Linked DNA regions of Homo sapiens. The protein of the gene in region 1 interacts with the protein of each later gene in a pairwise test. Each region holds a gene or a part of one and is shown in the gene's direction. Other genes may lie near its edges.

Region 1 (4,483 bases):
GCCCAGTATCTCAGTTCTCACACCTCCTTTCCTATTCCCTCACTTCACTAGCACATGTTTGTGTACTGGCTTCTTTCCTCCCACTTGGTTCAGCCCCATTGTTAGGATTTAGGCCTGTGTTTCTGTGTGTGTATGGGATTTAGGTGTGTGTGTTGTTTCAAATTCTGTTTTCTCCTTCAAACTTTTCTTGTTTCCTCTAACTTCCTTTAACCCTCATGGCTCTCTATACTTGTGTTATGTGCTTAGCTGATCTGACCTAGGGGTTTTGAGGTAATTCAAGGGCTCACACTCTTTGGTTGTAATGTCTTTGTGGACATACACAGTCTAGTTTCCATCTTTATATCCAACCCCATACCACCTATCATGATACCTTTGCCTTGAGAAGGTATTCCACAAATGATTATTTTATGGAATCTATTCAAAGTTGACCTGAAATAACTGAGAATTTGAACAAAAAGAATTTTCTGATGTACTCTTTTACATGTGTTTGGTTTTTTACTAAATCAAGGAAATGTTGGTTACCTTAAAACATAGAGAAAAGATTCAGATTCACAGGTCAAATAGACGTTATTACCATCTATGAATTATAAAGTGAGAAGCATAGTAAATATTTACATTTTATTCTTCAGATAAATCCTATATAAATGTAATTATATATGACATTCTATGCTCTAATTAGGATGAAATGTTATGTTGTTTTGCTGGAGAAACTTTGTATGTATTCTTTGTATTTTAAATCATAATAATATTGTAAACTTTTCATATTAGCAGACATTTGTATAATTACTTCTCTCTTTCTTTGCCTGTGTGCCCAGCTATCAATATCATGAAATTCCTGTGCTTCTTTTTTTCTCTATTTTATAGCTTCTCTATCCTTAACAGTTACCAAAGAGAATTTGGACAGTAACCTGAAACATTAGATCTCACATTTTCTAGTCAGTCATCTGAATAGGTGTCAGTCATCTGACTCATTTCATCACTATGAATTTTGCTGGCCAAACTATATGTAGCATTTTTGTCTTCAGTAAACTTGATAGTTGCAGTCAGAAAAGATGTAGATTTAGTCTGTATCATAGAACCTGCTGCTGATTATTTGAGAAGTGAAGGTGTTTATTCAGATACATTAGTGTGATATGAATTTCTGTAATTTCTGTGATTTGCAAAAAGAAGTGAGTCTCTGTATTTCCCTGTTACAGGATTAGACACATGTTAAACCAAACAAAAAAAAGGAGTGAGTAGATGGAGAGCCAGCAGTTGTTTCTTAAAAGGTTATACAGTAGGTTCTGTAAATCCATGTGTTGGTATGGCCACAGCAGGATAAAGCTCCTTTAGTAAGCGTGTTGACCCAATTAATGTCCCTTACTTCATCCATTTTTATTTTTCACTGAATAATATGTTTCCTAAATTAGATAATTTTAGAACAATTGCAGTATAAAAGAACTGATTTGAAAGTTTTAAAACTGTTTTTAAACACTGTTACCCAGTAATTTTCTTACATATAACTTCTTAGTATAATAGAAGTTCAGAAAAATAGCACTATGGGTGAAAAGCAGCCGCAGAAGGAGCCCATGGAAAGGAGTAATTGAATCAGGACTTAAAAATGACCTAGGTTTTGTGGGCATCTCAGGGTGGGTAAAATGGCTTGAGCAGAGGTATGAGTAAGTTTTTAATAAAAGAGCAAATATCTTGCAGTGTCTAAAGACCATAGATCCTAAATACATACTTATTTCCCTTTACTTATCCTATGAGGAGTAAAACACTGAGACTCAGTGATCCTCTCAACTGACCACCTCATTTTGCCAGTGAGGAAAGTGACTTGCCTAAGACAGTATATAGAATGGAAAGAATTTACCCAGAATCACTTACTGAATTAAATTAGAGGCAGAATTGTGACAGAAACCCAGGCCTTCTGTGTCATAGTCTAACATTCTTGACAGCACAGTGCCATGCTACATAGCATAAATTACAGCGTTGAAAGTAAAAATGGGCCTCGTTGCCCAAGGTGTCAGCAAAATGTGTTGCCAGTTAAGTAAACTATTTGGTTTGTGTATAGTAAAGAAACCTATTGTATTCCTAAATGAAACTTGGATCCCTAAGTCATTGTTACCAAGGCAGGTACTGGAGAGGGCATATTAGAGCTAAAGAAATGCTGACCTGAAAGCCATTCTGCATAGCAGTGGGGCACTTCAGGCTGGTACACAATGTTAAGAGCATTTCCCAAAGTAAAAGTCTCTTGAGAGAAGCACATATCACACTCTTTGAAATTCTGGCCCTGAGCCTAGATCACAGCAAAATAGGTTCAGTTCAAAAGGGCCTCTTTTCTCTTAACCTCCACTCAATATATAGAATGGAAACCAAAGTGAAGAATATTCTTGCTCCTCTCAAATCGAAAGCCAGCCCACTAGACCCAAGAGTTAGCGAGTATTACTCTCAAGAAAGTGTCTATATCTCATGTGAAAACTAAGATAGAAACAATAATTTTGTTTCTCCTTTAATTTATGAGAAATGACAGAATGACACTCAGCTTGAACAAATTAGACCCTTTCAGTGAAAGGGTAATCAGATCCTTATGATTTTAATCCTTTGAGCTATCCTTGGAGCAGCTTAAGTACACCCAAGCCCCCAGAAGGATCCTCTCCATGCCGTGAAATGTGCTCAGTAATGGAAGAGCGCTGATGGTTTTTATTACCACTCTTCCATTAAGTAGAATTTCTCTGTTACCTTTCAGAGACTGAACAGTTTCATTGAATTGCTTTAATGTTTCTTATTTTGTGCTCTGAGAATCTGTACCAAGGGGCAGTGTGTTAATGCACCTATGTGGTGCTGTCCTCTGCCCTTACATAATTAGCTTGATTTGGACTGCTCTGGCAAAGAAGAGAAAAGATTACCAGTCTGAGGAGAGTCAAGACTTTGGAGGAGAGGGATCTTTGTACCATGGTAATGGGAGCCAAGCGTCTCCACTTTACCCATCTAACTGGCAGATATTGAGACGTATAGCTTAGGTAACTGATCTCATGTAACTGCAGTTAAGTTGGAGATTGAATAAGATAGGATGATAATGTCCTAAGTCTTTATGCTGTCATCTGTGGACTTATGTTTATATCTGTTATGCCTTGTGCATGTTGGGATTGTGTGTCATTAAGTTTTGTTTTCCTGCAGCAGCCCAGTAACAGTTAAAGCATATGGGAAGCCAGCAAATTTGAGAGAAAGCCACTGCGAAATATGGCTAAGATTCCTTCTGGAACCAGCCTTTCTTGTTCATACATTAGTTTCCATTGAAATCCCCTAGGAACTGGCTCGAGGTAGAGCTTTGCATGTTGAAACTTGGGACTTTCGATTGATAATTTTGTTGTTCATTTTCAAATTATTCTGGGAAACTTTGCTTTCTTTTGTTAGGAAGAAAAATACAAGTAGAAATTAAGTGCTCTGAAATTACATAGCTTTTCAGTGTCTTTCTTGCTCAGCTGCCATTGGCAGGTGGTTCACACAGCCCAGCCCCCTTACTAGGCGGCCACCGTTATGAATACAGGAGCTCGGGTGTCAGATTTCCCTCTTAAGCTGTGAACTGCTTAGCTTTTCTACTGGGCACCAAGTCATTTTTGTGTTCAAAGATTTAAAAAACTAGTGGAGGCTGGGCACGGTGGCTCAAGCCTGTAATCCCAGCACTTTGGGAGGCCAAGGCAGGTGGATCACCTGAGGTCAGGAGTTCAAGACCAGCCTGGCCAACATGGCGAAACCCCGTCTCTACTAAAAAAATACAGAAAATTAGCCAGGCATGGTGGTGGGCACCTGTAATCCCAGTGACTTGGGAGGCTGAGGCAGGAGAATTGCTTGAACCTGGGAGACAGAGGTTGCAGTGAGCTGAGATCGTGCCACTGTACTCCACCCTGGGCAACAGAGAGGGACTCCCTCTCAGAAAAAAAAAAAAAAAAAAAAAAAAAAGCTAGTGGTGACAAGAGTAGGAAAGATACATTCTGTCTAGCTTTAAACAATTGTTTATAGGAATGAAATCTAGGTATTATGTTTGCATGTTTTTCATGTTATAAAGGTCCTGGGATCTTAAGATTTCACTAGCAGTTTCTTCATTTCTCACTTCCTGCCATTTTACCACCTTTGTTATGGAAAATTTTGAACATTATGCCAACACACTTAAAATTAATATTCACAATGCTTTCAACTTCAAATTCATTTTAGAAACGACAGCCAAAGCATCTTGAGTTATTGACTTTATTCTTAAAGATCATTGTGGAATATATTTTGCAATGATCTTGTGAGGCTTTTTTATTTTTAATGGCTTATTGGTGAATTAATTTTAGGCTTTGTTATTCTTTTGTATCTCACATAATCGTTTGCTTTCTAATTTTTAGAGCCTGGTTATTTCTGATTTCTCGGTCTCATGTGTTTGTTTGTTTATTTTTCCTGTGTCTAAAGAAAATCTAAAAGACCCCAAAGATAGGCTGCCTCTCTTAAGTAAATAGAAGTA
Region 2 (4,483 bases), on another chromosome or scaffold:
CTTAATAACTTTTGCTAATAATATTCCTACTACTGGTTATGTGACTTGGGAAGACACTTAGGCTCCCTGAGTCTCTGTTGCTTTAACTCTAAGATGGGGATGATACCTGCTACCTGCAAACTATAAAGCACTCACAAACATAAAGTTTTCCTCTTATCAATGATTATTATCATTAGAATAAATAAATATTCTGTCTATCATTTAATTTATTTTTTTAGAAACTGGGTCTTACGGCTGGGCGCAGTGGCTCACGCCTGTAATCCCAGCACTTTGGGAGGCTGAGGCGGGTGGATCACAAGGTCAGGAGATCAAGACCATCCTGGGTAACACGGTGAAACCCCGTCTCCACTAAAAATACAAAAAATTCTCCAGGCGTGGTGGTGGGCGCCTGTGGTCCCAGCTACTCCGGAGGCTGAGGCCGGGGAATGGCGTGAGCCCGGGAGGCAGAGCTTGCAGTGAGCCGAGATCGTGCCACTGCACTCCAGCCTGGGCGACAGAGCGAGACTCCGTCTCAAAAAAAAAAAAAAAAGAAACAGGGTCTTACTGACCTAGAGTGCAGGTTAGAACGCATTGGTATGGTCCTAGCTCACTGCAGCCTCAAACTCCTGAGTTCAAGTGGTCTTCTTGCCTCAGTCTCCCAAGTAGCTAGGACTACAGGCGTGTGCCAGCATGCCTAGCTAATTTTTTAAAAACTTTTGTAGAGACAAGGTCTCACTGTGTTTCCCAGGCTAGTCCTAGTCTCCAGCGATCCTCCTGCCTTGGCCTCCCAAAGTGTTGGGATTACAGATATGAGTCACCATGCCTGGCCAGATATCCTATCTAGCTATAGTGAGCATCTCAGCCTGGTGTAGTGGCTCATGCCTGTAATCCCAGCATTTTGGAAGGCTGAGGCAGGAGGGTCACTTCAGACTAGGATTTTGAGACCAGCCCTGGCAACATAGCAAGACCCTGTCTCTACAAAAATAAAAATTTTTTAATTAGCCAGACACGGTGACATGTGCTTATAGTCTCAGCTACTTGGGAGGCTAAGGTGGGAGGATCACTTGAGGCCAGGAGTTCAAGGATGCAGTGAGCCATGATCACGCCACTGCATTCCAGCCTGAGCGACAGAGTGAGACCTTGTCTCTTAAAAAAAAAAGTGAGCAGCTGGGTACGGTGGCTCACGCCTCTAATCCCAGCACTTTGGGAGGCTGAGGTGGGCGGATCACAAGATCAGGAGATCAAGACCATCCTGGCTAACACGGTGAAACCCCGTCTCTACTAAAAATACAAAAAAATTAGCCAGGCGTGGTGGTGGTCACCTGTAGTCCCAGCTACTCAGAAGGCTGAGGCAGGAGAATGGCATGAACCCGAGAGGTAGAGCTTACAGTGAGGTGAGATGGTGCCACCGCACGCCAGCCTGGGCAACAGAGCGAGACTCTGTCTCAAAAAAAAAAAGAAAAAAAGTAAGCAACCCTAAATTAGGGGTTCTCAAAGTCAAGTGAATAGGTCAGTCATTGGGGTTAACAGGTTGAGTTTTTGATCTGAGATCACACAGGAAATGGAGTCAGGGCTGCCTTTGCTTTACTCCAGTTTTCATAGTCAGGCTGTGCCATCCTGGTGCTTGCCCTCCCTGCTGCTCCCTCTTGTTTCCTGTGCTCCGATGGCCTGCATCCAGGTCTCTGATTTTTCTTGCTTCATTGTGTGATTGTACAGATGTGTGCCTCAATAGAGCAGTGCCTCACGAAAGGCTGGGTTTTGTCTTTTTAAAATTTTCCTTTCAGGGAACGCTGTGAGGAGCTCCGTGTTGAATTGTTATCTATCCATCAGAAGAAGGTGTGTGAGGAGCGGAAAGCACAGATTGCATTTAATGAGGAGCTGAGCAGGCAAAAGCTGGTGGAAGAGCAGATGTTCTCCAAACTCTGGGAGGAAGACCGATTAGCCAAGGAAAAGCGAGAAGCCCAAGAGGCGAGGAGACAGAAAGAGCTGATGGAGAACACACGCCTGGGGCTGAATGCCCAGATCACCAGCATCAAGGCACAAAGGCAGGCGACACAGCTGCTGAAGGAAGAGGAGGCACGCCTTGTGGTGGGCCTTTAAAATGCTTGTTAGAGGGTGATCAACGCCATGGGTGTAGTACAGTTTGCAGGCCTGTTACAGTACAGTTTGTCTGATGGCCTGGGCTAGTTCACAGGCACATTTCCATTTTTGGACTCTTAGTGCTGTTTAATAATGTATCCAAATGTGTGGTGCAGAGTTCATAGAAGGGTCAAGTGTGGAAGGCCAACGCACCCACAGGTGGAGAATGGTGGTGGATGATGGGTACTGGGATTAAAAGTAGTTTCTGTTTATACTTTTCTGTTTTCAACTCTACAACTATTTATTACATTATAATCACACATGCCCAGGCAATTTTCACAGTTTTATTGCTGACTCAGCTACGAAAAGGAAGGTTTTCTTTCTTACAGCCTCTCTAAATCCAGGTGTGTGTGTATTTCCAGAAATCCTTTATTCCCATCTCTGAAGTCAAATGCACTAACTTGTCTTGTCCAACTGTACTGATGCATTATCTTTATTATGATTCTACCTTAGGAAAGTAACAACGCACAGATTAAACATGAGAATGAACAGGATATGCTAAAGAAACAGAAGGCAAAGCAGGAAACTAGGACCATTTTGCAAAAAGCCCTACAAGAGAGGATAGAACATATTCAGCAGGAATACAGAGACGAACAGGACTTGAACATGAAGCTCGTGCAAAGGGCCCTTCAAGACTTACAGGAAGAGGCAGATAAAAAGAAACAAAAAAGAGTAAGACATTTTTTTGGTGCCTGCTACCTGCTGGAAGGGATTCCTTACTGAGTTCTCAGTCTTGTGGAAGATGGCTTCAAATATATAGCAGTGCTACTCTGAGTGTGGTCCACAAGCCAACAGCATCAGCACCATCTGGGAAAATGTTAGAAACAGAAATTCCCAGGCTCCAGAATCAGGATCTCCCAATCAAAATCATGACAGGGGCAGGAAATCTGTGTTTCAGCACACTCCCCCAGGTGATTCTGATGCTAACTAAAGTTTGAGAACTCCTGGAATTTGAGAAAGACATTACTCAGAAAGTGACATTTGAGTTGGACCTTAAAGGATATGTAAAGTTTTGTCAGGCAAAAAGAGAAGGGAAAGGCATTCAGTATTGAGTTAACTACCTATACGTTTGGAATTTGGATTGAACTTTTAAGAGTGTTTTGTTTCTCCCACAAGTGCTTTTTCTTGTTTTTACCTGGTTCTTAGTGTGCATGTACTTTGATTTTTAATTAAACTTCTCTCTCTCTCTCTCTTTTTTTTTTTTTTTTTTGAGACAGGGGTCTCACGCTGTAACCCAGGCTGGAGTGCAGTGGCATAATCATGGCTCACTGTAGCCTCGCCCTCCTGGGCTCAAGCAATCCTCCCACCTCAGCCTCCCGAGTAGCTGGGACTACAGACATCCACCACCTAGCCTGGCTAATTTATGTATTTTTTGTAGAGACAGGGTTTTGCCAAGTTGCCCAGCCTGGTCTGGAGTGGGCTCAAGTGATCCTCCCACCTCAGCCTCCTAAAGTGCTGGGATTACAGGTGTGAACTACTGTGCCTGGATAAACTTTTCATTTTGATATGATTGTAGATTCACATGCAGTTTTAAGAAATAATACAGAGAGATTCCTTGTACCCTTTACTCTGGTTCCCTCAATGGTAATATCTTGCAAAACTATAGTACCATGCCAGTCAGGATGTTGACATTGATATAATCAAGATACTGAACATCTCATCATCACCAGGATCTTTCATATTGCCCTTTTATAGACACACCTACTTCCCTCTTGCCCCACCCCCTTCTTAACCCTGTTCTTCATTTCTATAATTTTATTATTTTGGGAATGTTATATTAGTAGAATCATATAGTGTGTAATCTTTTCAGATAGCCTTTTTCACTTAGCATAACCCTCAGGAGATTTGTCCAACTTTTTGGATCTATCAATAGTTGTTTCTTTTTCTTTTTCTTTTTTTTTAATTTTTTTTTTTGAGACAGTCTTGCCCTGTCACTCAGGCTGGAGTGCAGTGGTGTGGTCTCAGCTCCCTGCAGCCTCAACTTCCCAGGCTCAACTGATACTTCAGCCTCAACCTCCTGAGTAGTTGGGATTACAGGCACAAGCCACCATGCTCAGCTAGTTTTCTTATTTTTTGTAGAGATGGGGTCTCACTATGCTGCCCAGGCTGGTCTTGAACTCCTGGGCTCAAGTAATCCTCCTGCCTTGGCCTCCCAAAGTGTTGTGTTTACAGGCATGAGCCACTGCACCCAGCCTTCTTTTTATTCTTTTTTTTTTTTTTTTTTTTGAGATAGAATTTTGCTCTTGTTGCCCAGGCTGGAGTGCAGTGGCGTGATCTCGGCTCACTGCAACCTCCGCCTCATGGGTTCAAGCGCTTTTCCTGTCTCAGCCTCCCGAGTAGCTGGGATTACAGGCGGGTGCCACTG
Region 3 (4,483 bases), on another chromosome or scaffold:
TGAGCGGTGAGTCACAATAGAAGGCCCCTTACTATCTTTGGCCTAAAATGAAGGTATCAGGACAAAGCCTGCATGGCTGGTGATGCCAGGCAGAACTCCCTTCAAGCATAGCTCTGCGGTTCTGAATTGCAGGACACAGAGAGCAACAGAGAGATGGCTGCAGTCCCAAACACTGAGTATGACGTCAGCAGAGTCTCAGACTTCAGAAATGGATTTCTTAGAGCCTGATCCTGAAATGCAGTTGTTACGGCAGCAGCTACGGGATGCTGAAGAGCAGATGCATGGCATGAAGAACAAGGTAGGGCACAGAGGGTGGGGAAGGCAGGCACATTTCTTGTCTTTCTTTCACCTTCTCCCAGCCTGTGGTAGAAACATCTCCATAGGCATCCACTGTGGAGGGAGATAGTACTCTGGGGTCTCACTTGCCTGATGTAAATCTTCCAGTCAAAGAGCGCCATGCTTTCCCCAAGCTTGTTCTTGGAGCATATGTGGTATCTGTAGTAAACAAGCCTCCCTGTTCCATTTCCCACATAGTGTCAGGAATTGTGTTGTGAGTTGGAAGAGCTACAGCATCATCGCCAGGTCAGTGAGGAGGAGCAGAGGCGGCTGCAGAGGGAGCTCAAGTGTGCTCAGAATGAGGTGCTTCGGTTTCAGACCTCCCACAGTGTCACCCAGGTAAACACTGCCCGGGGAGGCATCTGGGGTGGGGGCAGAAGGGCCTCATGGAGGGGCTGCTTCAACCGGGGTGGGCACAGTGAGTATGGCTGTGCTCTGCTGACTCTTGCCCTGCAACTGGGCACAGTCTGCTGGAAACCAACTGTAGAAGTCATATAGCACTGCATTCTAGAAATGGTGGTCATTACTGAGTGTCCATCTCACAGAAGAAACCAAACCCTAGACCTGTGGGAGCTCCTCAAGATGTCTGCATCTGAAAAGGAACCCAACTGATCCGTAGAAAGACCTGCTGTTTCTTGAGAGTAACTGTTCTACTCACATCCTCCCTACCACAGAATGAGGAGCTGAAGTCCAGACTCTGTACCCTGCAGAAAAAATATGATACTAGCCAGGATGAGCAGAACGAGCTCTTGAAGATGCAGCTGCAACTTCAGACTGAGCTCCGGCAGCTCAAAGTCATGAAATCCACACTTGTAGAAAACCAGAGTGAGAAGGTAACAGCAACCAGAGGTGAGGGGACAACTTAGGTGCTAAGGGCATCCTTCTGAGGTTTTGGGGAAGGTGGATAAGAGTAGTGAGTTAAAAATAATTCCAGCAACCACATAGGCAGCACCACAGGTAAAGAACTCCAGCCCTGCTCGAGTACTACATTAGATATGAGGACATTAGGAAGTGAAGGGCAGGAAGAAGCAAATCTTAGACTGTTGGTGTCTTCAAGTGACTCACACAGAAGAGTGAGTGGGTTAAGGAGCCCAAAGGCACTGCCCAAAGCCCCCTCTACCATAGGAGTTACTGTGCCGGCTGCAGAAGCTGCACCTCCAGCACCAGAACGTCACATGTGAGAAGGAAAAGCTGCTGGAACGGCAGCAGCAGCTGCAGGAGGAGCTGCAGTGCCATGAGGCAGAGCTGCAGCACCTCAGGGATACGGTGGCCTCCTTCAAAGAGAGCAATGAGAAGGTAAAAGAAGCTCCTGGTGAGGGAGGATGTAGCCAGGCATCATCTTGTGTGAGGGTGAGAGCACAGAGGACGAGAGGGAATGGTAGGAGTGTGGAGGAGCTGGCAGTGAGGGGGCCAAAGAGGTGCTTAGGAGAAAGGTGACCTCGGGGAGTCACAAGGCTCTCAGCTTCCTTTGATTTTAAATCAGAAAAGCAGCATATAAAAAGGAAGTCCCTTTGCCTCCCCACCTCCCAAAAAAGGAAGCCCCAGAAGGTCTGTGTTTCTTTTTAAATTATTTTTATATTTATTTATTTATTTATTTAACTGGAAAGGCTGCACTGGGAAGGTCTGTGTTTCAAGCCTGTCAGGGACGGGTCCATCTTGGGTATCTATCCCTGGCTGGGATGAAATTGGGGCTGAGAAGGACAAGGGAAGATGGGTCCCCTTAGTCCCCGCCTGGGAGGAGAGAGTCCAGCAGCAGGAGTGCCTGGGATGATGGCCAGGCCTGCCTCCCCTGCCCAGGACACAGAGACGCACGCTCAGCTTCAGGAGATGAAGCAGCTGTACCAGGCCAGCAAGGACGAGCTGGAGCGGCAGAAGCACATGTATGACCAGCTGGAGCAGGACCTCCTGCTCTGCCAGCTGGAGCTGAAAGAGCTCAAGGCCTCCCACCCCATTCCGGAGGACAAAGGAAAGTGTGCTAATAAGGTAATTGTCGTTCAGAGAGGTGACAGCTCCTGGGCACTTGCTCCAGAGAGAAGAGGTACAGAGGCAAAAAGTGAAGGCACCCAACCCAAGGGCTTGATGGCCTTCCTAGGCAGGAAGCAGAGGCAGGGCCACATGCTGCTAACTTCAAAATTGTTTGCCCTGACCTTGACTTTGAGCCAGAGCCACAGCTTAGTAGGATCAATACCTTTGGATCCCAGTCTGAACCCCTGAAAGTTTTACACATGATTCCATGTATGTAGACATTTATACAATGGTATTAGAACTGTAGTGATATCTAGTCATTCTTGGAGGGGAACATATACATGGGCCCATTACACAAATATTATTGTTGGAACTAGAGAAAGGGGCCAGTTTTCTGGGTCAGATTGCAAATGGTCTTATAAAGGGGTACGGTCTTGTGCCCAGAGTGCTGATTGGGCAAGAGAAGGACCTAGGCTCTTCTAGGATTTATTCTGTGACTTTGAAGTAGTTAAATTCTTTTTTTATGAAATGGAGTCTCACTCTGTCGCCCAGGCTGGAGTGTGCAGTGACACGATCTCAGCTCACTGCAGCCTCCGCCTCCTGGGTTCAAGCAATTCTCCTATCTCAGCCTCCCAAGTAGCTGGGACTACAGGCACATGCCATTGTGCCTGGCTAATTTTTGTATTTTTAGTTGAGACCGGGTTTCGCCATGTTGGTCAGGCTGGTCTCGAACTCCTGACCTCAGGTGATCCACCTGCCTCGGCCTCCCAAGGTGCTGGGATTACAGGCATGAGCCGCCATGCCCTGCCAGTAATTAAATTGTGGAAGGTTGAATTGTGCCCTCTTTAAATGGAAGAGAATACTACTCTTAACTCACTTCCTTTTAGCAGTAAATCCTGGTAGTGATAAATAAGGCCTTATTCATTTTTTTTCTTTTCCATAGTGTATAAAATGCAAGCCGTTATCATTTATCCTGTTGAGCACTTTCAGCTCCTGATTACTGATGGGAAATGGAAAGGTGTTGAAGCATGTTGGAGAAGAGGCCCAAGAGTCTCTAACGATGGTGGAGTTGGTCACATTCTGCCAGAAAACTCAGTAGTTCCTGTCCCTGGGGAAAGGCCTTCAGGAGACGGAGGACTGGGAAGGTTATTTGGGCCACCTCAGCAGTCTCTTTGCCTTTCTATATCCAGGCTCACGTTTCCTCCTTTTTCCACTGCTACTCAATTTAGGAGCCCAGGTGATCTGTGACTTGCTCGTCACCTCTTCCCCTAATGGGAAAAATGATGGGAAAGGAGAAGCATGCTGGCAGACAGCACCTGCTTTTTCTCTAGCCGTAAAACAGCATTGAGATCTGTCTGATATTAGAAGATCTGGGTTTTTGGAAATGGGATGATTTAGTCTTCTCAACCCAAATTTACCAATAGCGCATACTTTCTAAAGATTTAAAGAGAGAATTAGGAAAGCAAAAATGGGAAAAATTAGGGTGAAATTAAGTCCTTATTTGTAAGGAGTGTAGTTGCATTAAAAAACAACTGGGGTTAATGAGAATAACAGGAGCTAAGAGTTCCCAACAGGGTGGGAATATGGTGTATAAAGGAAAGGGCCGGAGAAGAGGAAGGGGGAAATGAGAAAGGGGCATCGATAGCATTCCCCATCAAACTGCCCCCAGAAAGGAATGGTGGAAGTTTAGAGCAAGGCCAGCCACCAGTCTAGAGCAACCTGCTCTGAAGGAGCAGCCTGCAGGGGATCCCCAATCGGTATCTAAACAGCCAGAATGCATTGTGGCTTGGGGTGACCAGTCCAAGGTGACTGCACAGGGAGAGGATCACAAGAGGCAGGAGAGCGCAGAAGTGCTCTGTTAGCCACCCAAGAAGCTTACCTTACAGAGTAACCACCCCCTCCACACCCGCCCCCACCCACAGTGTGACACACTGCTGTCCAGACTGACAGAATTGCAGGAAAAGTACAAGGCCAGCCAGAAGGAGATGGGGCAGCTGCAGATGGAGCAGTGTGAGCTCCTGGAGGATCAGAGGAGGATGCAGGAGGAGCAGGGCCAGCTGCAGGAAGAGCTGCACAGGCTCACACTGCCACTGCCAAAGAGTGGCCTCTTACTCAAGGTAACTCTGCCACAGGCAGCTGCTAACTGCGGGGAAGCTGCTCTGAGAAGCTTCCCTGTGTGACT
Region 4 (4,342 bases), on another chromosome or scaffold:
ACTGTTTCTCAAGCCACAGTCCCTCATGGCTTCCCTTGGCTAGATGAGGGAGTTCCCCGACTCCTTGCACTTCCTGGGTGAGGCAACACCCCACCCTGCTTTGGCTCGCCCTCCGTGGGCTGCACCCACTGTCTAACCAGTCCCAGGGAGATGAGCCAGGTACCTCAGTTGGAAATGCAGAAATCATCCACCTTCTGCGTTGATCTCACTGGGAGCTGCAGATCGGAGCTGTTCCTATTCGGCCATGTTGCCTGTCACCCTGACATTTGTCTCTTTACGAACACAGTATTTCTGTCTGTTGAAGCTTCACCGGGGAGAGACCTCCTTTACTCAGTTTGATTCATTAACACTCAGCATTGCTGAGCAGTCATTGTGCCGGGCACATGCCCAGTGCTATTGTGCGTACATCTCATCTCATTCTCAAAGTAACCCTGAGAGATAGGTCATTTTCCCCCGGCTGGAGCAGAGGAATAGGGAGCTCAGACAGGGCGGCTCGCGAGAACGAGGTTGTGCGTGGCCGAGCCCTGATTTGGACAGAAGCGCACTGCCTTCCTCACTGAGTCTTTGGTCACAGCAGTCAGCCCCGGCCTCTGTGCAGGGGGACGCTCTGAACGTCCTTACTGTGCTTGTGTGTAGGGCTTGGGGTTTCTGACAGAAATTCTCTTTCTCCATAAACCTTGAGGGTTTCCTGTGCAGGTGTGGTCACAGGCCGGAGGGTGAAAATGCTGACTGCCCTGGCATGTGCCCAGGTCCCATCAGGAATGGCTGGTGCAGCCTGTACTTCTCTTGGTAGCCCGCTGACAAAGGCGGTCTTGTTTTTGTCAAAGATGGGGCAGTCTTAAAATGAATACAAATAAGCGGCTCAAGTTTGAGACCCTCACGGAGCAGGTGGTTTCAAATGTCAGGCTTTGAAAAGGAAATGTTGAGAACTAATGAGAGAAGCAGGTCTCCAAAGCCTATTCCTTGAGGGCTTTTGGGCATCAGCTGCTTTTCCCCCAAGCTCCCTGCTGCCAGCTCTCTTGTCCACTAGGCTCTGAGCAGCCTTGGTGCTGGCACCAAGAAGAACCAGGGGCACAGGGACCCCTGCCAGGAGGCTCCCGCCAGCATCCTCAGGGCCGTAAGCTCCAACTCAGGTTTTTACTGAAACCTCAGTGTGCTTCTCAGTCCTCCGGGGTCAGCCTTGCTGGAGCCACCTTGTTGTGTGGGACTGACTGTTGCTCTCCTGGGCCGTCGTCATCCTGGGAGCTAGGCACTCCTCCTAAGAGGACCTCTTCACCGGTTTTTGTCTCGTTCTAGACCAGCCACTGCATTACGTAGTTGTGACTGAAATTTGAGTTGCTGAATTGTTTTTCAGTGTCACACCGCTATTTACTATTCAGGCCGCCACACACACCAGGCCCTGCTGCTGGTTGTCTCCCTCCAGTGAAGCTTTGTCTGAGCCATTGCTGTAATTACCTGCCTTAGAGCGAGAACTGGAGGTAGTCAGCTTGAGCTGTGGGTCATGTGGCCTCCTCCTAGTTTCTGTGCACATGTACACAGACATGTGTCTGCCCTTTGGAGTCTCCTGGGATCTGAGTAACCTGGATTGTTTTTAAAAACAAGTCAAACAAGATATGTGGAGTTTCCCCCCGATGTGTGAGGCTCCTTCAGCAGGGCTGTGATGGCAGCTGAGTGGATGGGGACAGGCTCTGGCCGTGCTCTGTGATCACAGAGCTGTCAGCAGGAGAACCCACAGGAGGTCTGATCTGGCCCTTGGCATGGGCTGAGGGGAGAATGTGCCACAGGTAAAATGCAGGCTGGCTGCCAGAGGTCAGCACCTTTTCCCGGTTGAGGCTGTATGCTCACTCAGCTAGGTGGTATGGCGGCCTTTTTATGGACACCTGGCTTCTGGAAGGTAGCTGCCAACGTGGTACTTGGGGAGGCGAGCCAGCTGTTAGGGTGGGAGCAGAGGCCCTGGGAGCTCAGAAGGATGATGATAGCTGCTGGTTCAAAATACGGACCTGCTGATCCTAAGCTATTAATCTTAAACTTCTGAAATAAAGACAGAGATGGAAGGAGTTAGAATAGTGCTGGTCCATATTTTCCCCGAAATGAGAAGTAGACTTGGAATCCTTTTCTATATCCAGGATCCTAGTTCCTGCATTTTTTCCTCTGGTTCTTATTAGCATTTTTCACTTTAAAAAGTAAAAATACGTATTACAGTTGCCAAGTTTAAATTATTGGGATAAAATGCCCTACCACAGAATTAAAACCAAAATAATGCTCATGTGATGTCCCTTAAGGTGGTGAGTGGGTTCAGGACCCTCAGCCACCTGCTCAGCAGGGAGAAGGCAGGGAGGGAGGGGTCCCTACTCGCACAGGACAGCGGGGGACAGGCCAGGGCATACCATTCGAGTCCATCACAGAAGTGGCTCTGGCAGACTCTCTTTGGAATAAGAATAGAAATAAGTTTTGTATCTGAAGTTGGTTAAGTTTCTCTGAAATTCGCATCAGTCAACACCCAGGTCACAGCTTCCTTTATCCTCTCTTGGAGAGGATCAGGGAAAGGGTTGAGAGAGCCCTGCCTTCTCAGAGGGCGGCCGAGCGGGCTGCCCCATCTGCCATGGAGGCAGGTACAGGCTCATGGCGTGGCGTCCACAGCTCCTACCATATCCTTCTTGCTTCTCTGCAGAGAATCTGGACGAGGCTAGAGAACAGAAAGAAAAGAGTCCTCCAGACCAGCCTGCGGTCCCCCACCCGCCTCCCAGCACTCCCATCAAGCTGGAGGAAGGTGAGCTCTGGGTGGCAGCGGCCGCCACTGTGGGAGGGTGCACGGCTCGTGCGCGCTGTGGCGGAATGTGGCGGGAGTCGTGTTAACAGCAACACGGAAGTGTGTGCTTGCATCAGCGCCAGGACGTGACACCTTTCTCCTCCTATATTGCTTCTGTCCTGGGTAACTCCAGGCAAAACAGATTTGTATGTGAGCTGTGACCAGGTAGGAAGGCCGGCCTCGGGGGTCGGAACCCACCATGGTTGCTGGTGTCCACGTTGCCCATTGCTCGCACACTCCTCGTGCCGTGTTGTCATGCAGATGCCACCTTCGGAGGTGCCCTCCGCTGTGTGAGCCACACGCCGGCTGCCTCTCAGCCACCGTGTGTCTGTGGTGTGTGATCCCGGGTGTCTGTCCCTCGGTCTCGTACATCCATGTCTCTCGTGAAGCCCGTGGCCCTGCCTTTCTTCTTCTGTAACCTGATGGCTGTGACTGAATGCATAGATTCTCTCCTTGTGCTTTTTTCTCCCTGTGGCTGCGTCACAAGCAGGAGACGGATGCGCTAGAGAGTACCTGTTACCCTAGTAAGTACCGTGCTGCCTCCGCTCTCCACCGGTGCCCTGCGCTTTGCCTCATTCTCCTGCTTCTTTGTTGTTTATTAAGTTTTGTTTTCTGTTTATTTAAAATAAAAACAGAAGCCCCCCTTTTTTGTACCCAGTCCCTTGGAGGCCTTCCTGGAAGTGGTTCAGTCACCTGAGTGCTGTGCTGCCTTCAGCGGCAGCGGGTACCTCCACGCACCTAGGTGCCATGGAGCACTCTGGGCCTCAGGAGTTCCTACCTCCAGCCTTTGAGGGTCTCTTTGGATTGCTTGGTGGGAGGGTTTTGCCACACTGGATCAGATGTAAGTGCAGCCTCGGTTCAGACAGGGTGGGGTTCTGCCACCTGCCGTGTGGGGTCAGATTGCCTTGGACCTTTGCTGAAGCTGGTCCAAAGGAGGTGGGCAGAGGAGCGGATATTGGACCCTCGTAAAGCAGTGTGATGTTCACTCAGATGATGGCAGCTCTCCAGAGCGAGTGCCCTGGGGCAGCCTCCGTCCTAGCATCAGCCACACCATGCCCAGCAGAGCGGGCCCCATCTCCTCAGGGGGAGCGGCGCCTGTGTGCCCATAGCCCTTTCCCGGTTCTCATGAAGCGTGGCCTGGAATTAGCCTGGGGCAGCTGGCAGGGTGGGGGTGCTTCCAGCTTCCCAAAGGTAAAGCACTGAGAGTTTGGGGCCTGGGCCTCCTGTGCTGCTCCTAACCACTCAGCTGACTCCCCTGGCCCTGATGTGTGGCTTGATTTTTAAACACTAAACAGCTTGTGGTGCCTAACCTGTCAGTTGCTGGTAACTTTGTAGGCCGTTTACGAATGGACAGAGCGGGTGCCCGGGTAAGTGCAAGGAAGGCGCCCCCAGGCTGTGTCCTCAGGGCCGCTGTGCTCCTTCACAGATGGCCACTCCTGATGCTGGGTGGAGTTTTTGCCCCCACTCCTTGCCTTACAGGCCATCTCTTTCCTTTTAATTAACTTCCAGCCTAAACGGCTTTGTTCTTTTGGA
Region 5 (4,483 bases), on another chromosome or scaffold:
ACAGTGTTTCTTTCTGATTGGTTAGAATTTGTAAGATTTTTTTTCTCCTCTCTTTTATGTTTTACACATTATTCAAATATTTTCTATGAAAAGTTTTACTATTTTATTAAGAGAAAATAATAAGTAATTAATATTTTTTTTAAAAGAAACAAGAGGCAAAGTCTTCCTGCTTCCAGTCAGATTGTAGGCAGTCGCAACAATAAGTTGGCTTAGATGCAAAATTAATAATTTGTAAACATGAGTTGAGGATGCCAAGAAATCTAAATGAACTAAATTCCAGAAATGGGCAAGCCCTTCCTATGAGAGAAGAGACCCATGGCTGCGTGTATCCCTAGGACCACAGTAGAAGGGGAGAAAACAGGCTATTGAAGGGGACAAAGAGAAAAGAGACAAGCTTTTATACCAATAGCAGACAAGGGCTAGCATAAAGAGTTAGAATCCCAAGGAGTAAGCCCTAGTCTTAGTAAGCTATAATCCACCAGGCAATTCTTTGCCGTGAGGTCTTCACCGAGTGCATGGGGGAAGTATGCCAAAGGCTGGGGCAGGCAGAGGGCTCAGAGAAATTCCTTGAGATGTGCACAGGGCTCTCACAGAGTGAAAGGCAGCAGTTGGCTGAAGGCATGGATCAGGACAGAGGAGCTGAGAGGCATCCCTTGAGGCACAGGGGGCCCTCACTAACTGCATGACTGATGCAGCCCACAGGCCAGGAGAAGGGCAGGGAAGCTGAGACAAATCCCCTAGAGATGCATAGTTCCCAGTGAGCACAAGGCAGCAGCCAATTGCAAGACCAGGCCCCTGAACTTCTGAGTAACCACCTTCAAGTTGGGGTTCCCACGAACCCCTCTTTAGGCTTGATTAATTGCTAGAACAGCTCACATAACTCAGAGAAACACTTACGTTTCCTATATATTATTATAAAGGATATTTTAAAGGATACAAATAAACAGCCAGGTGAAGAGACATATAGGGCGAAGTCTGGAAGAGTCTGAAGTGCAGGAGCTTCTGTTCCGGTGGAGTTGGGGTGCACCACCCTTCTGGTAAATGGATGAGTTCTGGTTCACCTTCCTGCAAGCCTCCGTAAATTCAGCTGTCTAGCAGCTCTTTATATCCCATTTTCTTGGCCCTTTTATGGAGGCTTCATTGGATTAGCCTGATTGAAACATGGAAAACGCTTGTTGAGTTTCCCCATTTAGTCTATTAGTATTAGATTACATCCTTTTTGTCCAATCACATTTCTACACCATTGTCCAATCTTAAAAGATCCCATACTGTATAATTCTACTTATATGACATTTATGAAATGACAAAATTATAGAGACAGAAAACAGATTAATGGTTGCCAGGTGTTTGGCATGGTGGAGAGGAGGAGGTGTCACCGTAAGGGACAGAACAAGGAGAACTTTGTGTTGGTGAAATAGTTCTGTACTTGATTACAGTAATGGTTACAAAAATGTACATATGATCAAATGACATAGAACTATAAATATGCGTGTCGCATCAATATTAAATTTCTGGTTTTGATATTTTAGTAAAATTACATAAGATGTAAGCTTTGGAGAATACTGGGTGAAGGGAACCTGGGGCTTTTCTTACACTATTTTCTACTTCTTTTGAATCTATAATTATTTTAAAACAAAATAATTGAAAAGGAATGAACTATTTATACATGTAACGATATCGATGAATATAAAAAACAGTATGTTGATAAAAAAGTATATACTGTAACATGTAATCCTAAGAAGTCTAAGAATAGTCAAGAGGTATATGAAGTATGTGAACAGAGAAAGCTAATTTGTGGTGACAGATATTGGAACAGTGATTTCCTGGGGGTGGATAGTGGGTGTTTTTTTGACTAGCAAGGGGCACAAATGAACTTGGTTTGTCAAAACCTATCAAAATGCTCACTCCAGATCTCTACATTTTATTGCATGCAAATTACAGCTTAAAAAAGTTAAAGAGAATTAGAAATAAGATTCCAAAAATGACATACTATTTCTTTGCCAGTTTATTGGTAAAATAGTCCCATATCATACATGAGCATCTCTTCCCTTGCAGCAAGAATTCTTTGAACGCCTCTATGTAATGTATACCGTTGGCTACTCCATCTCTTTTGGTTCCTTGGCTGTGGCTATTCTCATCATTGGTTACTTCAGGTGAGTGATGCCCATCACTTTTTCCATGAAGGGGCACATTGTCTTTCCTATCCAGAGAAGACATAGCGGTCTCACAATATTTTCCAAATGTTTTCCTCAAATGCAAGTTTTTGAATTCAGCCTAATGTTATTATGTTATTTGACAATTAATTTTTCATGACAAATTCAGGGTTCTTTGTTTAAAAACTTAAAGTATCAAAGTAGTATGAAACCTTTAACCCAATAAGTATGTACTGAAGTATATTTGTTGCAAAGTAAGACAGCATCGAATTGAATGAGTTCCCGAGAGATTTTGGTGCTATTGGACAAAAATTCATCTTAAATAATCTCCCAAATTATTGGATACCAGCACATAAAGAAATAGTATTTATTGCTTTTGTTATGGTTTATTTTTTATCCACTTTAACATGTGTCCAATTCCATTCAACTTAATCGAAATCATTACAAAATTTTGAGCACCAATTCAGTCACCCTTCATATACTGGGATTTCACATCCCCAGATTCAACAGACTGTGGATGGAAAATACTCAGAAAAAAAAGTTTGGTTGTGTTCATACTGAACATTTACATACTTATTTTTTGGGTCATTTTTCTCTAAACAATACAGTATAACATCTATTTACATAGCATTCACATTGTATTTGGTATTATAAGTAATCTAGGGATGATTTAAAGTAACAAGATGATGTACATAGGTTATGTGCAAATACTGCACTATATCATATAAAGGACTTGAGTATCTGCAGATTTTGGAATTTGTGTGGAGTCTCGAACCAGTCCCTGCTGGAGGGGAGCAGGCTGGTTGGTGGTGGCAGCAGTCGCACTGGGTGTTTCCCCCATTTTTAATTTTATCCAAATTTAAATACTGAATATTTCTCTCCGTAGACGATTGCATTGCACTAGGAACTATATCCACATGCACTTATTTGTGTCTTTCATGCTGAGAGCTACAAGCATCTTTGTCAAAGACAGAGTAGTCCATGCTCACATAGGAGTAAAGGAGCTGGAGTCCCTAATAATGCAGGATGACCCACAAAATTCCATTGAGGCAACTTCTGTGGACAAATCACAATATGTAAGTGTTTTCACCATTTTCTCTCATTACTAATTTGTATAACACTACAAATAAGTACAATTTTACAGTCCACTAAACATGTTAACTTGCTTTTACTTATCTCTGAACTAACTAAAATGGATTATCAATTTGTATAGTGATGTTTTCTCCCTCAATTCTGTCCTTTCATGTCTAATCAATCATTTTATTAAAAGTTCTTGGGTTTTTTCCTCAAGAATATTCTGGAATGGAAACTGCAAAATGCACAAGATTGGAATGGTATTTGGCATAGGCACCACAGCAACTGTCATGGGGCTCACCACTTTCGAAAGTAAAAATCCCATCAGCAAAACCAGAAGCTTGCAATTTAAAAGCCCATGATATTTAGTCCCTTTATTGAGTACTCGAAGACTTGTTCCAATATAAAATTTTATGTTACTTGATTCTGCTCTTGAATGTCCTGGTGGTAGTAAATAGATTGATCCAATAATTCACTCAATTAGATCATTGAAGCAATATATCTGAAATTAGGTATAGTAGATTGATTGTCTTGATGGTGTGAATTAATACCCTGTCTGGATCTGTGCCTTTGCCCTGTAACTTTATAGTCCCTGCTGATTCTGATTCTGGGCTGGCACTGAGACTTGCTTTCCCCAACAGAAGGAAGTGGACGCAATAGTGTAGCAGTTGAGAGTAGACCTCTACTCAGTGAGCCTAGCCGAGACAAGCCTAGCCCAGATCAGCCGAACTACCCAGCCCATCCACAGATTTCTAAGATATGTTAAATGTTTATTGTTATAAGTCACTAACTTTGGGGGCAGCTTGTTTTGCAGCAATAGCTGCATAAAAGACCAAAATAAAATAAATTCAAGCTAAAAATATGGGTAACATTTTCTTCTTTATACTTTTCTATATGTTCCTAATTTTCTGTGATGGTCGTGTATTATTTTTATAAAGTGAAAAAATTGAGAAAAGGTGATTTTTTTGGTAACTTCTTAAAGAAAAAACTTATTTTAAAAATAGAATCAAGTTCATAGTCTTGAAAAATGATGCATTAAAATAACTGTTTTGGCCTCTCAACAGTTTTGACTTTACTGTGTAAAGGAGACATATTAGCCTGAAAAAGAAACTGAAGACTTGTTTTTTAGTGGTCTAATGTTGGCATCCAGTACAACAAAGTGTTCTAATATGATGAAATTCTGGTTTATTTGTAATAGATCGGGTGCAAGATTGCTGTTGTGATGTTTATTTACTTCCTGGCTACAAATTATTATT
Region 6 (4,483 bases), on another chromosome or scaffold:
CTGAGCTATTAATAGAACTCTCTGCTGCGAGGGCAATATTCTGTAATATACAGTAAAATGTAGCTATTGAGCACTTTAAATGCAGCTAGTGCTACTGAAGAACCAGATTTTAAAATTTACTTAATTTCATTTTAAGCAGCCATGCATGATTGGTGGCTACCATATTAAACAGCACCTCTATAGATACAGAGGTGAGTCCAACACATTCATACGCAACACACCCATAATCTGGCCAGCCCAATGAGCCCAGCTAAGCTAACTTATTTCTTTTTTAAGCAATCATTGTAACATTTACCAATGATCCTCATGTGCCTCCTGTTCTAACTAGTTACTTTTGGATTTCTGACTCTTTGTTTTGTCTTAAGATCTGACTCCTGACTCTTGCTCTTGGTATTGAGCTTTACCTCGCCAGCTCTTTTCCCACTGTGCTTCCTAATCATGGGTTTTGAGTTAGACACACTCCACTTTCATACCCTGTTTTGGATTTTCATGGATAGGAAGCACACTACCTGACATCCACAGACTCAACCTCCATTTCCGGCTAACCAGAAATTCTTGGGCTTGGTCCTCATAAACTTCTGCAAAGGGGAGTCGTAAGTAGCCTGAGTAGACTAATAAAATAACAATTTCTTGAGTGTTTGCTATATGTTATATTAGGTTCCTAGGGCTGCCTTAATAATGTACTACAAATTGGGTACAGTATTTTGGGGGGTACATTATTAATTTTCATAACAAATTATGAAGGTTGTCTATGAATGAGGTCGGGGAAATAATTGCCATACACTGGGTAATAATATATTACATTACTTGGTTTTAAATACATTTCTGTTTAAACAACAGACATTTATTGTCTCACAGTTATGAGAAACAGAAGTCTGCAATCGGGCGTCAGTGGGGTTGGTTCCTTCTGAGGTCTGTGAGGGGAAGTCAGTTCCAGGCCTCTCTCTTAGCTTCTGGTGGTTTTCTGGGAAACTTTGTCATTCCTTAGCTCATAGAGCTCTGCTTTCATGTTTACATGGCATTTTCCCAATTTGCATGTCTATGTCCAGGTTTCCACTTTAAACAAGGACACCAGCCATATTGGGCCCATCCTACTCCAATGTGACCTCATCTTAACTAACTTAATCTGCAGTGACCCTATTTCCAAATAAAGTCACAGTCTGAGGAACTGAAGATTAGTACTTTTTTTTTTTTTGAGACAGAGTCTCACTCTGTTGCCCGGGATGGAGTGCAGTGGCACAATCTTGGCCCATTGCAACCTCCACCTCCCCGGTTCAAGCAATTCCCCTGCCTCAACGTCCTGAGTAGCTGGGATTACAGGTGCACATCACCATGTCTGGCTAATTTTTTTTGTATTTTTAGTAGAGATGGGGTTTCACCGTGTTGGCCAGACTGGTCTTGAACTATTGACCTCAGGCAATCCGCTTGCTTCAGCCTCACAAAGTGCTGGGATTACAGGCATGAGCCGCCGCACCCAGCCAAAGATTAGTACTTTAACATATAAATTTGGGGGGAACATAATTCAACCCATAATCTATGGCAACTTGTTTTACATATATTCTATTATTATAATACATATAGATAAGAAAATTCAGGCTCAAATAGGTTAAGTGACTTGTCTAAAGTCACATAGCCAGTCACTGGCAGGCCATATACGTCTGACACTTGAGCTCATGCCTTAAACATCTGCATCAGCATTTCCCATAGTGTGAGAAATGTTCCACAGTTGGTTAGTCAGATAATTTTAAGTGTCATATGGACAATAATTACACATCCTGATGCACATTACAAAATAAACTAGCACATCAAATATGTAATTTCATGGATAACATTGTTTAGGAAGAAGCTAAGTGTAAAAAGTGAATTTATTTGAAAAAATATCGAGTGGTTAATAAGACAGGTAGCATGTGGATTTGGAAAACGTTATGAAGGTTGTCTGTAAATGACTAAAGTCTGGGAAATAATTGCCACACAATGGGTAATAATATATTACATTACTCTGCTTTAAAAGGAACTAATCTCTGGGATTAGCTTAAAGTGGGGAAGGACTAAATGATGGATTGTACCTGACCACTGACTCACAGAATGTTTCTAGACCTTTCTGGGTTTTTAGAATCTATGGGTTTGAATTAAAGGTCAGAGTGAGGTGTTAACTCCTAAGTGAGCAAATGCACTTTTCTCAGTGGGCAGATTGAACACCATTTTATCTTTACATATTGATGTAAACACTTCTATTCTGATGCTTCTTTTTCGTACTGTTGCTCTTAAAATGCAGTCAGAGTGTTAGTCAGCCTCTGAGCTCACCTCTGTGTTTATAATATGTTGCGTTGGCAAATAAAACTCATTTTCTTCAAGTGCTCTCTGAAGCTTTCCCTTTTCACTATTTTATTCCATTGAAGGTGCTGGCACTGGCAGGTCGTAAATTTTTTATGGCAAAATTAAGAGTTTCTAAACACATTTTACTCTCTGTGTCTCATTATTTTACCTCCTAATAAGTTTCAATCATTTTAGCACCTGTTTAAATTAAGATCCCCAAGGAAAACAGGGGGTAGGGGCAGGCAGCAATTAATATGTTCTAAAAATTTGCTGAAAAATTACTTAGTAAGATGGAACATAGTGACTCAGATGCTGGTGTTTTATGAATGCAACATTAAAATACTTTCTCTTAGTTTTAAAATCCATCCACACTTTTACTTTGTGAATCACTGGATGAACTAATGTGAAGCCTTTTTGGGGGAAGTGGCAAAGTGTCTTATGACTCTTGGGGGTGTAGGTGTAGGTGATGGAGTTATCTGTGTGTGGGTTTCTGTGTGTGTTTGAATTCCTAGAGATCCTTGGTGCCCTGCTCTCCATCCTGTGCATCTGGGTGGTGACTGGCGTGCTAGTGTACCTGGCATGTGAGCGCCTGCTGTATCCTGATTACCAGATCCAGGCGACTGTGATGATCATCGTTTCCAGCTGCGCAGTGGCGGCCAACATTGTGTAAGTCATCCCCTGGTCCCCACACACTGCTCATGAGGCTCTCCTGTAACTATCTGGACAAAGTCGACCTTTTAAAAAACTCAGTACATGTGAAGATGGTAGAGACTGGACAGAGTGTTTGAATGGCTCTAAGATTGAAAATAAGGTTGACTGCTTTCGTTTAAGCTAAAGTGTTTTTTAATATTGGCTTCTGCTAGCTATCATGTTTTGAAAGCTTCTGGTGTGCTAGAGGCAGGGTTAGGATGTTTGAATATATATTACCAACTTTAATGTTCACAACACCCCTATGTTATAGATTAGGAAACTAAAGCCCAGTGAGGTTAAATACACTGCCAGTTAAGTAGTACAGAGCCAGGATTTTAATCCAGATTCGCAGACCCAGAATTGAGCTGCTTTACATTCTGCTCTCAGGCATGCTGATGGTTCCACATGGGGCATGACTTACTACTGTTCCATTTCTATGGGGTGAGCAGATGGTGGCTTCCCAGTGAGCTGGGTGGAAAGGGACTCTAAAATGTATTTACTTCAGTCCCCATTTTACTTTTGCATTTTCTTTTGCAACATTTCCATAAAATGGTCATTAGTTTCATATATTTTAATAGAACTCATAAAAGGAAATTTATTTCCCTCAAAAACAGCCTCTTTTATCTTTGCAGCATTGTGACTGCATGAAAATTCTTCCTTATGCTATGTTAGTTAAATTCTCCCTTAAGTTTCAACCTGCTTGTCCATTCTTTTATCTAGGCAGTCTTAAATCATTCTTACAGGAGATGAGCATATGTCCCTTGACAAATGAGTCTACCTTTCCCAAAATGAACTACTGGATTGCCCAGGCAATGGGGTTTTGAGGCCAGGACTTTGATTTTTTTGAGTCAAATTTCTCCTTCCCATTTGAGGGTCTAATTCTGGGCAACTCTACTTAAAACTCCATCCATCCATCTATCTATCTAGTGATCTAGCTAGCTATCGTGTTGGTGGACAGAATAATGACCCATTCTCCTAAAAAGCTTTAAACATCCTAACCCCTGGAACTTCTGAATATGTTAAATCATATGGCAAAAGGAACTGTGCAAATATGATGAAGGATATTAAGATGGGAAATTATCCTTGATTATCCAGGTGGGTCCACATAATGACAAGCGTCCTTATAAGAGGGAGACAGGAGATCAGAGAGGAGAGAAGATGCTGTATTTCTGATGTTGAAAATGGAGAAATCGGCCTGGAGCCAAGTGGCCTCTGGAAGCTAGAAAAGACAAGAACATGAATTTCCTTCTAGAACCTCCACAAAGGATGCAGTCCTAGAGACCCACTTTAGATTTCTGACCTCCAGAACTATAATAAGTTTGTGTTGTTTTAAGCTGCTAAAGCATCATGGTTATTTGTTACAGAAGCAATAGGAAACTCAGCCTATTTATCATCTGCCTATCTATCTTGCAATACAACTTGACACATGCTATGAGGTAGATTTTTACATGAAGGTAGAGAAGACAGTGATCGAAAA
Region 7 (4,483 bases), on another chromosome or scaffold:
TAAGTTTATTGTTTTTTGAATTGATGCTCAAGTATGCTAGGTCCTAATTCCAAGTTATAAAACTAGTTCACATGGAGCCACACTAGTTACTAAGATATCTGGATTTATTTGATTGTTACTAAATTTCTCCACTTCACATCACTTGTCAGTGTCAAACATTTTTCTAGAAAATTCTGTTAAGTAGAACATCCGTATTAGTAAGACAGTGTAGTATGATCAAATTACAGAATGCTTGATCTTTTGTACTCCTAACCAGTGTAACCTGTGGCCACTCTTTTTCAACATATCCTTAGGTGTTTGTGTTACTAAGGTACTCATCACCAAACACTTTACCAAGTCAAATGTGCCATTTATTAGGTTTTTGAAATTTTTAGTATTCCCTGCACTTCTTAAATCTCTTTTTCTTTGCCGCTTACCATTTCCATGACCTTGGGCACATTACTGAAACTTTCCAAGCCTTAGTTTCTTCATTCATAAAATAGAGATAGTAAGACTCATTTCACAGATTTGTGAGGATTGCATGAGGTATCTGCAAAGGTGCTTTCTAAACTATAATTTATCGTACAGTTGTAAGGAGGTATGGTGAAGGTGTTCGTCAGAGGCCAGTTTGGTTGTGACTTTGATAGAGTTGTGTTTAAATAATCTTGGTTAGGGTGGGGCATGGTGGCTCACGCCTGTAATCCCAACGCTTTGAGAGGCCAAGGTGGGCAGATCACCTGAGGTTAGGAGTTCAAGACCATCTTGGCCAACATTGGTGAAACCCTGTCTCTACTAAAAATACAAAAATTAGCTGGGCGTAGTGGCATGCGCCTGTAATCCCAGCTACTCAAGATGCTGAGGCAAGAGAATCGCTTGAACCCGGAGGCGGAGATTGCAGTGAGCCAAGATTGCACCACTGCACTTCAGCCTGGAAGACAGAGCGAGAATCCATCTTAATAATAATAATAATAAATAATCTTGGTTAGACTTCAAGCCACACTGTGGCATTCTTTTACATTGAGTTAAGTGTAAACTACCTGGGACTGTGTTTAAATGGAGTATATAAACCGAAGGCATCCCCAGCTGGAGTTACCTGGATTAACTTTTTGCTGCAACTACTGGGGTCAACAGAAAGGGGTGACATTTCTCTTACAAGGAGCCCATGCCTAGATGTGGCTTCTTTCCTGTCTACTCAGAATAGGCTATGTGTGTCAGACCTAAGTCTTTTCCTACAAGTTGAGATTTTTTTTTTTCCTACAGGGTGTGAGAGTTGGGCTTTTGGCTGTGTATAGTTGGGGAGAATTATAGCTGTGGTGGTATGTGGCTTGGTTTACTTGGCGACTTCTCTTCCTAGGCTGCAGATCCTTCTAGGCCCTGACCTTCTTCTTTTTAGCTGCTTTTTTCAAGGTAAAGTAAGTAGTTAGTAGCACATGCTGGCCCAGGAGTCAGGTAGACCTGGATTTGAGCCCAGACCTCACTGCCTGCTCATGATCTCAGTAGGCTTCAGTTCCCTCATCTGTAAATGGGACTAACAAAAATACCCACCTCATAGGATTATTAATGGGCATTAGATAAGAAAATGGGTATATATTAAAATTTAGCATAGGGTCTGGTGAGTATTCAATATTTATGAATATTATGAATATGTATGAATATGGCTAGTGAGTAGCCAATATTTATATGTATTTATTTGTGAATTTATGTATCTCCTCTGGAGAGAGCATAACTAGTAAACATGGAAAAGCTTCAAAGCCTTAAATTTACCCATCATTGTTTATTGCTCCTGGTCTGTGGATTCTCTGCCTTCTCTCAGTGGTAACCCAAAGTACCTTTCACTTCTTGCTTTGCTGTTTCATTCTTTTCTTTTTTTCTTTTTTTTTTTTTTTGGAGATGGAGTCTTGCTCTATCACCCAGGCTGGAGTGCAGTGGCACAATTATGGCTCACTGTAACCTCTGCCTTCCGGGTTCAAGTGATTCTCCTGCCTCAGCCTCCTGAGTAGCTGGGATTACAGGTGTGCACCACCACACCTGGCTAATTTTTGTATTTTTAGTAGAGATGAGGTTTCACTATGTTGGTCAGGCTGGTCTTGAACTCCTGACCTCAGGTGATCTGCCTGTCTCAGCCTCCCAAAGTTCTGGGATTACAGGCATGAGCTACCATGCCCAGCCTTCTCTTTCATTCTTGTGGGTGGTTCTCACCAACCTTGTTTTGTCCTCAGACTCTTCCCCTTTTCTAGGTGAAACCAACCCCTTCCTCCACGAAAGCCTCTTTCCTCAGGACAGAGCTGACTTTTAAATTGGTTGGTTGAATTTGGGGTTTTGTGGGCTAGGTATCCTTAAAATCATTTCTAGCAGCCTCAAAATGGTCTGCCTTGAATCTCATGTCTTTATGTCATGGGGAATGACAGCCTTTTCTCCCTTCTTTCTTCTTCATTGTGTTGGAAAGTGTCCTCCCAGTTTCTATTGGCAAGTCTTCATTTGAGTAAATTCCAATCTTAATCTACTTCAAATATATATTGAATCATTATCTGCTTCAAAAATATAATGAAAACTGGTCAGGCATGGTGGCTCATACTTGTAATCCCAGCACTTTGGGAGGCCGAGGAGGGCAGATCACCTGAGGTCAAGAATTTGAGACCAGCCTGATTAGCTGGGCATGGTGGTGCGTGCCTGTAGTCCCAGCTACTCAGGAGGCTGAGGCAAGAGAATCGCCTGAACCGAGGAGGTGGAGGTTGCAGTGAGCCTAGATCGCACCACTGCACTCCAGCCTGGGTGACAGAGCAAGGCTCCTTTTCAAAACAAACAAAAATATATATATATATAAAACGAAAACCTTCAAATGCATAAAAAGCGTATGAAGAAAAATACAACACACACCCTGGTACCCACCCCTCAGCTGGTTAACGGCCTTCATTTTTCTCAGAAGTCAGCACCTGTTAGAACCTGACAGGCAGCCTGGCCCGTCTCTCCCTGTAGTGTGTTCATCCGGTCCTGGTGTGCGTGTGTGTCACCCTGTGTTAGGCCACCAGCTTCAAGTCAGCTCTTTGACCTGAGTTAAAATTCAACTTCTTGATTTGATGATTGATTAAAGAATTCTCAGAACATCCAGTATTTATGCAATCTTAATGTACACGTGGCCTCTAAGGAGGAAAAACAGTAATAACCACATACTCCTGGGTGTTATATTAGATGACAGATCTTTCTTACACAGCTGCATGTTTGTTCTCGACAGCGAATCCCCTGAGGTGGTACTGCAGGTGGTAGATCAGGTCCCCTTTTACAAAGGAGAAGCAGCCATGGTGGATGAGTCCAGAACGTGCAGCCTCAGTTTTATTTTCTTTGATTTGGGTACTTGTCTCCTATAGTTCTTTTTTTTTTTTTTTTTGAGACGGAGTGTCACTCACACTGTCATCCAGGCTGGAGTCAGTGGTGTGATCTTGGCTCACTGCAACTTCCACCTCCCAGGTTTAAGCAATTCTCCTCCCTCAGCCTCCCGAGTAGCTGGGATTATAGGCATGCGCCACCATGCCTGGCTAATTTTTGTATTTTTTTAGTAGAGATGGGGTTTCACCATGTTGGCCAGGCTGATCTCAAACTCCTGACCTCAAGTGATCCATCTGCCTCCACCTCCCAAAGTGCTGGGATTACGGGCGTGAGCCACTGTGCCTGGCCACTCAAATAGTCTTGTTTTAAGAACAAATATTATCATTTCTATAAATAGAAAACAACATTTGTTATAAATAAGAAGAACTTCTGGGCGTGGTGGCTCATGCCTGTAATCCCAGCAATTTGGGAGGCTCAGGTGAGAGGATCACTTGAGGCCAGGAGTTTGAGACTAGCGAGAGCAACATAATGAGACCCTTATCTCTCAAAAAAAAAAAAGCTAGACATGGTGGTGTGCGCCTATAGTCCCAGCTACTCAGGAAGCTGAGGTGGAAGGATTGCTTGAGCCTAGGAGTTCAAGACTGCAGTAAGCCAAGATTTCTCTACTGCACTCCATCACTCCACCCTGGGTGACAGAGCAAGGCCCTGACTCTTAAAAGAAAAGAACCATATAAATACTCAGTGAAAAACCAAACAATCTTATTAAATCCAGAGGCAGATCTTGTTGCTAGCAAATATATTGATTCTGAGGCTGCCGTCACTTTGGCACCTAGTTAGAAAATGGTCTTAAAGACAGAGTAGCACCAAACTTCAACTTTCTTCTCAAGGCCAGCAGAAGAACTTTTAACAGAATAAAAAATGGAACAACTTTTTTATTTTGGGACTTAATGTTTAATGCTACATATGTGGACTACCTAAAATTATCTTGTTTTCTGCCAGTAGTTTATGTGCTGCTCTAAGTGATAGCAGATCAACTGTCAAATCTCTGTGGATTAACATAGTAAAGGTTTATTTCCTGCTCATGCTACATGTCTAAAATGGGGGTGGGGTAAGGGCAGAGGGCAGGCTCCTCGACATAGTTACTGCTGCTCCACATAGCCACTCAGTTACCTAGGCTGAA

The links.
Region 2: the proteins of HMG20A (region 1) and CFAP53 interact in binary tests that used the Homo sapiens proteins (3 or more experiments, as listed by UniProt).
Region 3: the proteins of HMG20A (region 1) and CCDC136 interact in binary tests that used the Homo sapiens proteins (3 or more experiments, as listed by UniProt).
Region 4: the proteins of HMG20A (region 1) and ADD1 interact in binary tests that used the Homo sapiens proteins (3 or more experiments, as listed by UniProt).
Region 5: the proteins of HMG20A (region 1) and PTH2R interact in binary tests that used the Homo sapiens proteins (3 or more experiments, as listed by UniProt).
Region 6: the proteins of HMG20A (region 1) and SLC30A8 interact in binary tests that used the Homo sapiens proteins (3 or more experiments, as listed by UniProt).
Region 7: the proteins of HMG20A (region 1) and TBC1D22B interact in binary tests that used the Homo sapiens proteins (3 or more experiments, as listed by UniProt).

Annotation. Positions count from the first base shown.
Region 1 is NC_000015.10:77,472,571-77,477,053, forward strand, and holds part of HMG20A (high mobility group protein 20A), read left to right. Parts: intron 1-4,483. UniProt on the Homo sapiens protein: Plays a role in neuronal differentiation as chromatin-associated protein. Acts as inhibitor of HMG20B. Overcomes the repressive effects of the neuronal silencer REST and induces the activation of neuronal-specific genes.
Region 2 is NC_000018.10:50,249,065-50,253,547, reverse strand, and holds part of CFAP53 (cilia- and flagella-associated protein 53), read left to right. Parts: intron 1-1,763; coding exon 1,764-2,067; intron 2,068-2,571; coding exon 2,572-2,790; intron 2,791-4,483. UniProt on the Homo sapiens protein: Microtubule inner protein (MIP) part of the dynein-decorated doublet microtubules (DMTs) in cilia axoneme, which is required for motile cilia beating.
Region 3 is NC_000007.14:128,805,227-128,809,709, forward strand, and holds part of CCDC136 (coiled-coil domain-containing protein 136), read left to right. Parts: intron 1-132; coding exon 133-298; intron 299-534; coding exon 535-675; intron 676-1,010; coding exon 1,011-1,169; intron 1,170-1,461; coding exon 1,462-1,632; intron 1,633-2,133; coding exon 2,134-2,319; intron 2,320-3,309; exon of another isoform or gene 3,310-3,538; intron 3,539-4,223; coding exon 4,224-4,418; intron 4,419-4,483. UniProt on the Homo sapiens protein: May play a role in acrosome formation in spermatogenesis and in fertilization.
Region 4 is NC_000004.12:2,923,343-2,927,684, forward strand, and holds part of ADD1 (alpha-adducin), read left to right. Parts: intron 1-2,671; coding exon 2,672-2,770; intron 2,771-3,299; coding exon of another isoform or gene 3,300-3,333; intron 3,334-4,342. UniProt on the Homo sapiens protein: Membrane-cytoskeleton-associated protein that promotes the assembly of the spectrin-actin network. Binds to calmodulin.
Region 5 is NC_000002.12:208,440,309-208,444,791, forward strand, and holds part of PTH2R (parathyroid hormone 2 receptor isoform 1 precursor), read left to right. Parts: intron 1-2,055; coding exon 2,056-2,153; intron 2,154-3,039; coding exon 3,040-3,229; intron 3,230-4,425; coding exon 4,426-4,483. UniProt on the Homo sapiens protein: This is a specific receptor for parathyroid hormone. The activity of this receptor is mediated by G proteins which activate adenylyl cyclase. PTH2R may be responsible for PTH effects in a number of physiological systems.
Region 6 is NC_000008.11:117,154,863-117,159,345, forward strand, and holds part of SLC30A8 (proton-coupled zinc antiporter SLC30A8), read left to right. Parts: intron 1-2,828; coding exon 2,829-2,982; intron 2,983-4,483. UniProt on the Homo sapiens protein: Proton-coupled zinc ion antiporter mediating the entry of zinc into the lumen of pancreatic beta cell secretory granules, thereby regulating insulin secretion.
Region 7 is NC_000006.12:37,274,117-37,278,599, forward strand, and holds part of TBC1D22B (TBC1 domain family member 22B), read left to right. Parts: intron 1-4,483. UniProt on the Homo sapiens protein: May act as a GTPase-activating protein for Rab family protein(s).